Linked DNA regions of Homo sapiens. The protein of the gene in region 1 purifies or fractionates together with the protein of each later gene. This does not show direct contact. Each region holds a gene or a part of one and is shown on either strand. Other genes may lie near its edges.

Region 1 (3,811 bases):
CCCAAAATCACGTGGAGCCTCAGGCACAGTGAGGATGGCATCTGCAGGATCAGCCTGACCTGCTCCGTGGAGGACGGGGGAAACACTGTCATGTACACATGGACCCCGCTGCAGAAGGAAGCTGTTGTGTCCCAAGGGGAATCACACCTCAATGTCTCATGGAGAAGCAGTGAAAATCACCCCAACCTCACATGCACAGCCAGCAACCCTGTCAGCAGGAGTTCCCACCAGTTTCTTTCTGAGAACATCTGTTCAGGTTTCTCTCCATCTCTATTTACTCAGGTCACAGGACCTTGGGGCCTCCAAGAGTTTGCATCCTGACTGATTCTTTATGAAGTGCAGTAAGAGGCTGTGGGTGAGAGCCCTTTAGAGTGGCATGCTTCCACAGATATATGAGAGTCACGCATGTGATTTTAATGTTCTAATAGCCACGTTAGAAAAAGCAAGAAGAAATAAAGTTATTTTAATAATATGTTTTATTTAACTGAATATATCCAAAATATCATTATTCAACGTGTATTCAATACAAAAAAATTCATTAGACACTACATTTTATTTTGTACTAAGTCTTTGAGAGCCAGTATGTATTTTACACTTAGAGCACGTCTCGATTCCGATGCTAAATTTTCACTGAAAGTGTTTAATCTATATTCAGACTTCGTAAAATTTACAGTTGAAAAAATAGATTTATGCACCCAAGTTATTCCAAGCATATTTATCAGTTTTTCAAGAAGGAATTGAGTAGCCATTTTTAAATTTAAACTAAAACTAAATAAAAGAAGCAATTTGGTGTCTCAGTAATACTAGCCACACTTCAAGGGCTTATGCATAGCTTGTGGCTACCATATTGAACAGCACAGAGTTACAGGCTTGTGGAGAAAAGCCAATAGGAAGCTGATATGGAAAGGGATGTGGACCACACAGGAACAAAGGCTGCGTGAGTGGGAGCTAGAAAAGAAGCCCCAGTGGCCCTTAATAAATGCTAAGTACTATTCTAGGCCTTCAGGCATTTTTGCACAATCTTCGCAACAATCCTACAGAGTAGATATTCTCGTTTTTCCCCTTTATATGGATAAAGAAACTGAGGCTCAGAAAAGATAAGGGACTTATCCAAGGTCACACCATAAAAGCTGGTTTCGAACCCTGAGCTCTATCTTCTGCTCTTCCGTAGAAGGAAGCAGAAAAAAGGTACGGTCTACCCAGGATCTGACAATGTTGGGTCAGATTGTGTCTGGCAGACAGATCTAGAGTCCAGCTTAACAGGAATCTGGAACTCCCCTCATATCATTTACAGCGGGGCAGTGTAATGTGGCGATTAAGGGCGCTGTAGGATCTGCACTCGAACCTCAGGTCAGACACTTGAAACACTGTGACACTGGGCAAGCCGTAAACCTCTCTACCCAGGGACTGTCTGCCTCAGGTACTGCTATAACCTCTTGCCTAGAGTAATGCTTGCTCGAAAAATGGTTGTAGAATGAATGAAAAGAAAGACTTTCCACAACGTCATGGATTTTAAGGGGCAGGTAGGATGGCCATCATGTTCTGTGCATTGTTTGCTCCAGTGTGTCTTGTCATTATTTGAATTAACATCACTCATTTCCTCCTCAAAGGACCTGAGAGAAACACAAAGCTTTGGATTGGGTTGTTCCTGATGGTTTGCCTTCTGTGCGTTGGGATCTTCAGCTGGTGCATTTGGAAGCGAAAAGGACGGTGTGAGTTTCCGAGATCAATGTTGTCCGCCAGTGCTAGGCCATTTCCCTGGGACTTGTGGAGGCTTCTCTGCCCTCACACAATCCCGTGCTACCCCTCCCTGCCAGCATCTTATTTCTTCTCAGAGCAATGGGGGAGGGGTGTCAGTTGGGACTCTTTACTCACAAATAATAGAAGCCCAGTTCAAACTGGCTTAGACAGAAAAAAAAAGGCATGTGGGAGCAGGGAGAGTGATTTATTATTTTTTCACTTAAATAATCAATCTGTGGGGAAGGCAGGGATAGAGCTGGCATAATGGAGAAATGTCACCAGAGGCTCAAAAGTCATCAGAGCTCTCCACCTTTCATCTCTACTGTGTATTTTGAGTCAGCTTAACTCTTCCTACTGCAGCCCGCTGAGGGAAGGGGTGGGAGCGAGGGGAGGAGTGTACCACAACACAACAGCTGGCAGCTCCAGACCCACACATACTAACAGCTCCGACACCAGACAGGGAAGAAAATGTGCTTCCCTCTAACTCCAATTTAAAGAATGTCAGAAATAGCTCTGATTGGCCCAAGTTAAGGTCATGTGGCTGCTGCTTGGACCAATTTCTATAGCCAAGAAGATACACTATTATGATTGGCAGCTCCTCTAGAATCCCAGTATTGGAGTGGAAATGAAGTAGTAGCCAAAAAGAGCAGAATGGGTAGAACACATGGGGTCCCTGGAAGAATTACTGAATTGCAGGCAAACTACTCTGATCAGTGGCTATGGCAGAGGAGCTCTCTCTTCTGGAGGGATGGCAGGAAGCTCCAGAGCCTCCACCTCTGCAGAAAGTAGCCCTAGACTCTGGCCACCCCTTCACATAGGCCTGGCTTCTCATCAGGGTTCATCCTCCTTCCTGAAGCCTTTTCCCTGTCTATGTCCCAGAAGTCTCTCCCCTTCTCATTTGACTCTCACAGAATAAAAGACACCTCTCACCTCACAGCCCTCTTGATAAACCTTCTCTAACTTTGTTTCTCAGGTTCAGTCCCAGCCTTCTGTTCCAGCCAAGCTGAGGCCCCAGCGGATACACCAGGTAACATCACCCATGACACAGGCTATGGGGTATCTGGTCCAAATGGAAGTTCTAAAGTCTTGCTGCTCAAAGTGTGGTCTGCTGGCCAGCAGTGTGGGCATCACCCAGGAAACTTGTTAGAAATGCAAAATCTGACCAGGTGCCGTGGCTCACACCTGTAATCCCAGCACTTCGGGAGGCTGAGGCAGGTAGATCACTTGAGGCCAGGAGTTCAAGACCAGCCTGGCCAACAAAGTGAAACCCTGTCTCTACTAAAAATAGAAAAAATTATCTGGGCATGGTGGTGCACGCCTGTAATCCCAGCTACTCGGGAGGCTGAGGCATGAGAATCTATTTAACCTGGGAGGTGGAGGTTGCAGTCAGCCTAGATCACGCCACTGCACTACAGTCTGGGCAACAGGGCAAGACTCTGTCTCAAAAAAAAAAAAAAAAAACAGAAAGAGAAAGAAAGAGAGAGAAAGAAAGGAAGGAAGGAAGGAAGGGAGGGAGGGAGGGAGGGAGGGAGGGAATCTTGGGCATCACCCCAGAATACTGATTCCAAACCTGTATTTTAACAAGATCCATAAGTGATTCATATGCCTACTGAAGTTTGAAAAGGAAGGTAGCATAGAAACAAAAGCCAAGATAGACTCCTTAGAGATGGTCACCAGAGCTAGGAGAGGCAGTCTGTCCCCCAGGGTCTCTAGGGTTCCTTGGGCATTAGCCATTCACCATTTGAATGTGGACTACAATGAGGATGGAGTTATTGTCTCCATTCTGAGAACAGAGAAACAAAGGCCAGATGGAACAGTACATCTGTGGTAGAAAAAAATTTAAAACTTAATTAAAATTAAACTTCAGGAGACTGTACAACCTATTACCTAAGAGCATCGTGGGAAATGGAACTGCTCTGACAGGTTTTAGTGTGGGGAGCTGAGATGCCTGCCTTTACTCCCCCACTCCCATGCCACAGTGTCCTAAAATTTCACCTTAAACTCTGGAGCTCTGGAGTGCTAAGGAATCCCCAACCTGTGCTCACTCTAACCAAATCCTGCTTTAAAAAAT
Region 2 (3,811 bases), on another chromosome or scaffold:
CTCAGTTTCTCTGAGCATTGAGGCAGTGGCTGGTGCTGTCCTGTGGCCAGGCCCAGAGGCTGAGTGCCCAGGGGGTCCAGGGGCCTTGCTGGCCAGAGAGAGTGGGTAGCCCATTCTACCCCGAGCCTGTGCACGCGCAGGGCTGCCAACACCTCCTTCCTTCCCCGCTTGGCCCACGCAGGACAGGGGGCGTGGGGGCCCCAGCAACTGGGACCTGCCTGAATCCGCCTCCCTCCTGAACCCCCCTCCCGCCTGAACCCCTGGCCAGTCTTGTGTCACACGCTTACTTCCTTAGTTTTGTCTTTAAATCAGCCGTTTTACATTGGAGTCCATTTACTGGGAAAGGAGACCTTGCATCCTTGCCTCCCACCCGTGGGAAGAAGCCCGGCCGACAGGGCTTTGAGACCGGACCCGAGTTTATTCCCAGAGACCCTCCCGCGGGTGGGCGAGCTCCGAGGTCTGGAGAAGAGGAGGCCCCGGCCCGCACCCTCTAGCACCTGTGTCCCCTTCGTCCCGGCCACAGATGCAGGTTCTCCCAAGAGGCGGGTCTGTACCCGCCCCGCGCCCCCAGCCCAGCGGGCCCGGCCTCCGCCCCTGCCCCGCACTCCCACCCCCACCCTCAGGAGAGCGCGGCCCTGCTCCCCACCCCGCGCGGTCTCCCCCCACCGCCTGCGAACCCCCATGCACGCGCGGCCCCGCCCCGCGCACTCACCAGGCCCGGCAGCCGCGCGGTCTTAGCGGCTCACGCGCTCGGGCCCAGGGGCGGGGACGTGGGGACCCGGGCGGCCGCTCAGCCGCGGCCGCGCGGTGAATGAGCCCGTTGTGCGGCCGCCGCGGCCCCAGCGACACCCCGCGCGGGGTCTACAAGGGCTGACGCGCCCCCGCGGCTTCCGTTCCCGGGCTGGGCGGTGGCTCGTCTGCGTCTCCGGCCCTGGGGGTGGGCTGCGCGCTCCATCTCGCCGGCCCAGTCCCCTCCCCAGCGTCGGTCTCTCAAGGCCCCTCCCAATGGGGGCCAGGCGGAGGGTGGGCCCTCGGGCCTGTGGACTGACCCCGGGGTTCCTGGGCCTGGGGGCGGGGATCCCTGTCCCGGGCTCCCCTCGCTGCGAGGCTGGCCCTGCCAGATGACACTCAGAGGCGCCTTGGGTGTCAGGCCAGGGACATCTCTGATGCTGGGGCTCCCCCCGCTAGGGTCAGGGGCTGCCGGGCTATCGCCTTGGGGTTCTGCAGAGAAAACCTGAAGCCCAGCTGGGTCTTCACTTTCCTCCAGGTCACCGTGCCCCGCTACTCCAACTCCGTGGGACTTTGGAATGCACCTTCTGGGCATTTAATTCTTATCCAAGTGCCTCTTAAGTTATACTTCTTTGCTACCAGTGTGTCCTTTGGATGGAGGGGAGGAGAGGTGGTAGGGGCCGGGTGGGGTGGACCCCAGGGACTCCTGCTGCTCCTGCTGGACACCCAGCCCGGGGTACAGGAGCAGGTGGGGACCAGCAGAGGCGGGGCGGAGCAGGAGCCCACACCCAAAGGCTGTAGACTCCTGCCAAGGCTCTGCCTTGATCTTGTACACCATGGGAGGACCAGAAGGGAGGCGTTGAGGTGTCCAGACCTTTGCTGTGGAGCTGGGGGTGCTGTGGCATGGGGAGACTGACAGACGGGGAGCTGTATAGGGCCAGATTCCGGTCCATGGTGGTAACCCCATCCCCCACCACTGCAGATGCGGCACAAAGCCAGCTGCCACAGGAGGTGCACTGCCCCACGGGCAGCTGTGCTCACCTGCGTGGCGTCCGCAGGAAGCCCTCAGACCCTGGCCAGCCTGGTCTCTGCTTCTCACTCCAGGCTCAAGGCTGGCTGCTATTCCATTCACCCCATTCCCTTTCCCTCAGGCCAGAAGCATCACTCACAACTCCAGACCCTTGCACACCAATCTCCTCACTCAGTTCACCCTCAGATGTCCAACTCCACATGGCCAAAACCGAGACCAGTCTCACTCCAAGCTCATCCACCCGCCTAGCTGCCCAAGCTGAAATCCACAGTTGCCCTGTACGACCCCCCGACCCCCCACCTCACCCCCCAGCTCACCTCAAACCTCATCAGTCCCTCTGCTCACAGCCTGCACAGCCACCACCCAGTCTGGGCACCATACCTCTCTGGGCAACCCCCATGGCCCCCAGCCAGTCTTCCAGCTCCCACCCTGACTCCAGTGAGCTGCCAGAGGGATCCTTGAAAAATGCTCTGGAAGCCAAGGTGGGCGGATCACGAGGTCAGGAAATGGAAACCATCCTGGCTAACATGGTGAAACTCCGTCTCTACTAAAAATACAAAAAAATTAGCCGGGCGTGGTGGCGGGCGCCTGTAGTCCCAGCTACTCAGGAGGCTGAGGCAGGAGAATGGTGTGAACCCGGGAGGGGGAGCTTGCAGTGAGCCGAGATCGCGCCACTGCACCCCAGGCTGGGCAACAGAGTGAGACTCTGTCTCAAAAAAAAAAAAAAGAAAAAAGAAAAATGCCCTGGCACTGCTCAGCTCAGAACCTTGAAAGGGATCCTTGTTTCGCTCTGGGTCAGGGTCCCATCCTCAAAGCAGTCACTTCCAGAGCCCCATGGAGCCTCATATCCCATGATATCCACCCTTATTCTGTCTCAGGCCCACCAGCTGCCTCCCTGCTGCCTGATTGTCATGTGTGCATTCCTGTTCCAGAGCCTTTGCACTGGCGATGCCATCTGCTGCCTGGATGTCTTCCTGCTGGCTGGTCCCGTTGCATGGTAGCCTTAGGTGTCTCCTCAGAGAGGTCCCTCGCTGACCATCAGGCTCCTCACTCCCTGTCGTATCCCCTTCACCAAAGATTCCCATTCCCTGACGACGCCTGTCCCCTCGGAATGCAGGCCTCGTGGGAATTCAGCCCATCCGCAAGTGCAGTGGCAGGGCGGCCCCCTTCCCCCTTGACGACGCCTGTCCCCTTGGAATGCAGGCCTCGTGGGAATTCAGCCCATCTGCAAGTGCAGTGGCAGGGCGGCCCCCTTCTCCCTTGAGGACGCCTGTCCCCTCGTAATGCAGGCCTCGTGGGAATTCAGCCCATCTGCAAGTGCAGTGGCAGGGCGGCCCCCTTCTCCCTTGAGGACGCCTGTCCCCTCGTAATGCAGGCCTCGTGGGAATTCAGCCCATCTGCAAGTGCAGTGGCAGGGCGGCCCCCTTCTCCCTTGAGGACGCCTGTCCCCTCGGAATGCAGGCCTCGTGGGAATTCAGCCCCATCTGCAAGTGCAGTGGCAGGGCGGCCCCCTTCTCCCTTGACGACGCCTGTCCCCTCGGAATGCAGGCCTCGTGGGAATTCAGCCCCATCGGCAAGTGCAGTGGCAGGGCGGCCCCCTTCACCCTTGACGACGCCTGTCCCCTCGGAATGCAGGCCTCATGGGAATTCAGCCCATCTGCAAGTGCAGTGGCAGGGTGGCCCCCTTCTCCCTTTCCTGTGCACTCATGTTGCCTCTTGGGGTGTGGGAGGGGAAATGGGGCACTCCTGGGCCTCCAGGAGGTGCAGAGAACCAGGGTGAGGTGTCCACCAGGTCCTGCCTGGCTCCTGACCCCTGGCCCCTGCTGCTCGCGACTGGCCTGCCTCGTGCCACTGAGCCTCAGAGCCATTCCGAACCCCCACCCCAAGTTTTCCATCTCTTGATGGTGTAGGGTTGGGGGGTCTCCATGTACAGATACTCTAGTTCATACCAGGCCTTCATAGGGTTATTTTCCAAGGGGAAGGGCCCCTCGGGAAGCCGGGATCGGAGTCCTGTGTGGCACCTTGCAGGCTCCCACATGCTCCGTTGTGGCC

The links.
Region 2: the proteins of LY9 (region 1) and IDUA purify together in Homo sapiens (affinity purification with mass spectrometry; one large-scale study listed by BioGRID and IntAct). This does not show direct contact.

The regions. Positions count from the first base shown.
Region 1 is NC_000001.11:160,816,608-160,820,418, forward strand, and holds part of LY9 (T-lymphocyte surface antigen Ly-9 isoform a precursor), read left to right. Parts: coding exon 1-256; intron 257-1,610; coding exon 1,611-1,712; intron 1,713-2,713; coding exon 2,714-2,767; intron 2,768-3,811. UniProt on the Homo sapiens protein: Self-ligand receptor of the signaling lymphocytic activation molecule (SLAM) family.
Region 2 is NC_000004.12:996,733-1,000,543, forward strand, and holds part of IDUA (alpha-L-iduronidase isoform a precursor), read left to right. Parts: intron 1-1,632; coding exon of another isoform or gene 1,633-2,257; intron 2,258-2,691; coding exon of another isoform or gene 2,692-3,023; exon of another isoform or gene 3,024-3,332; intron 3,333-3,811. Other genes in the region: uncharacterized protein LOC124900646, read left to right, coding at 1,633-2,257, 2,692-3,023.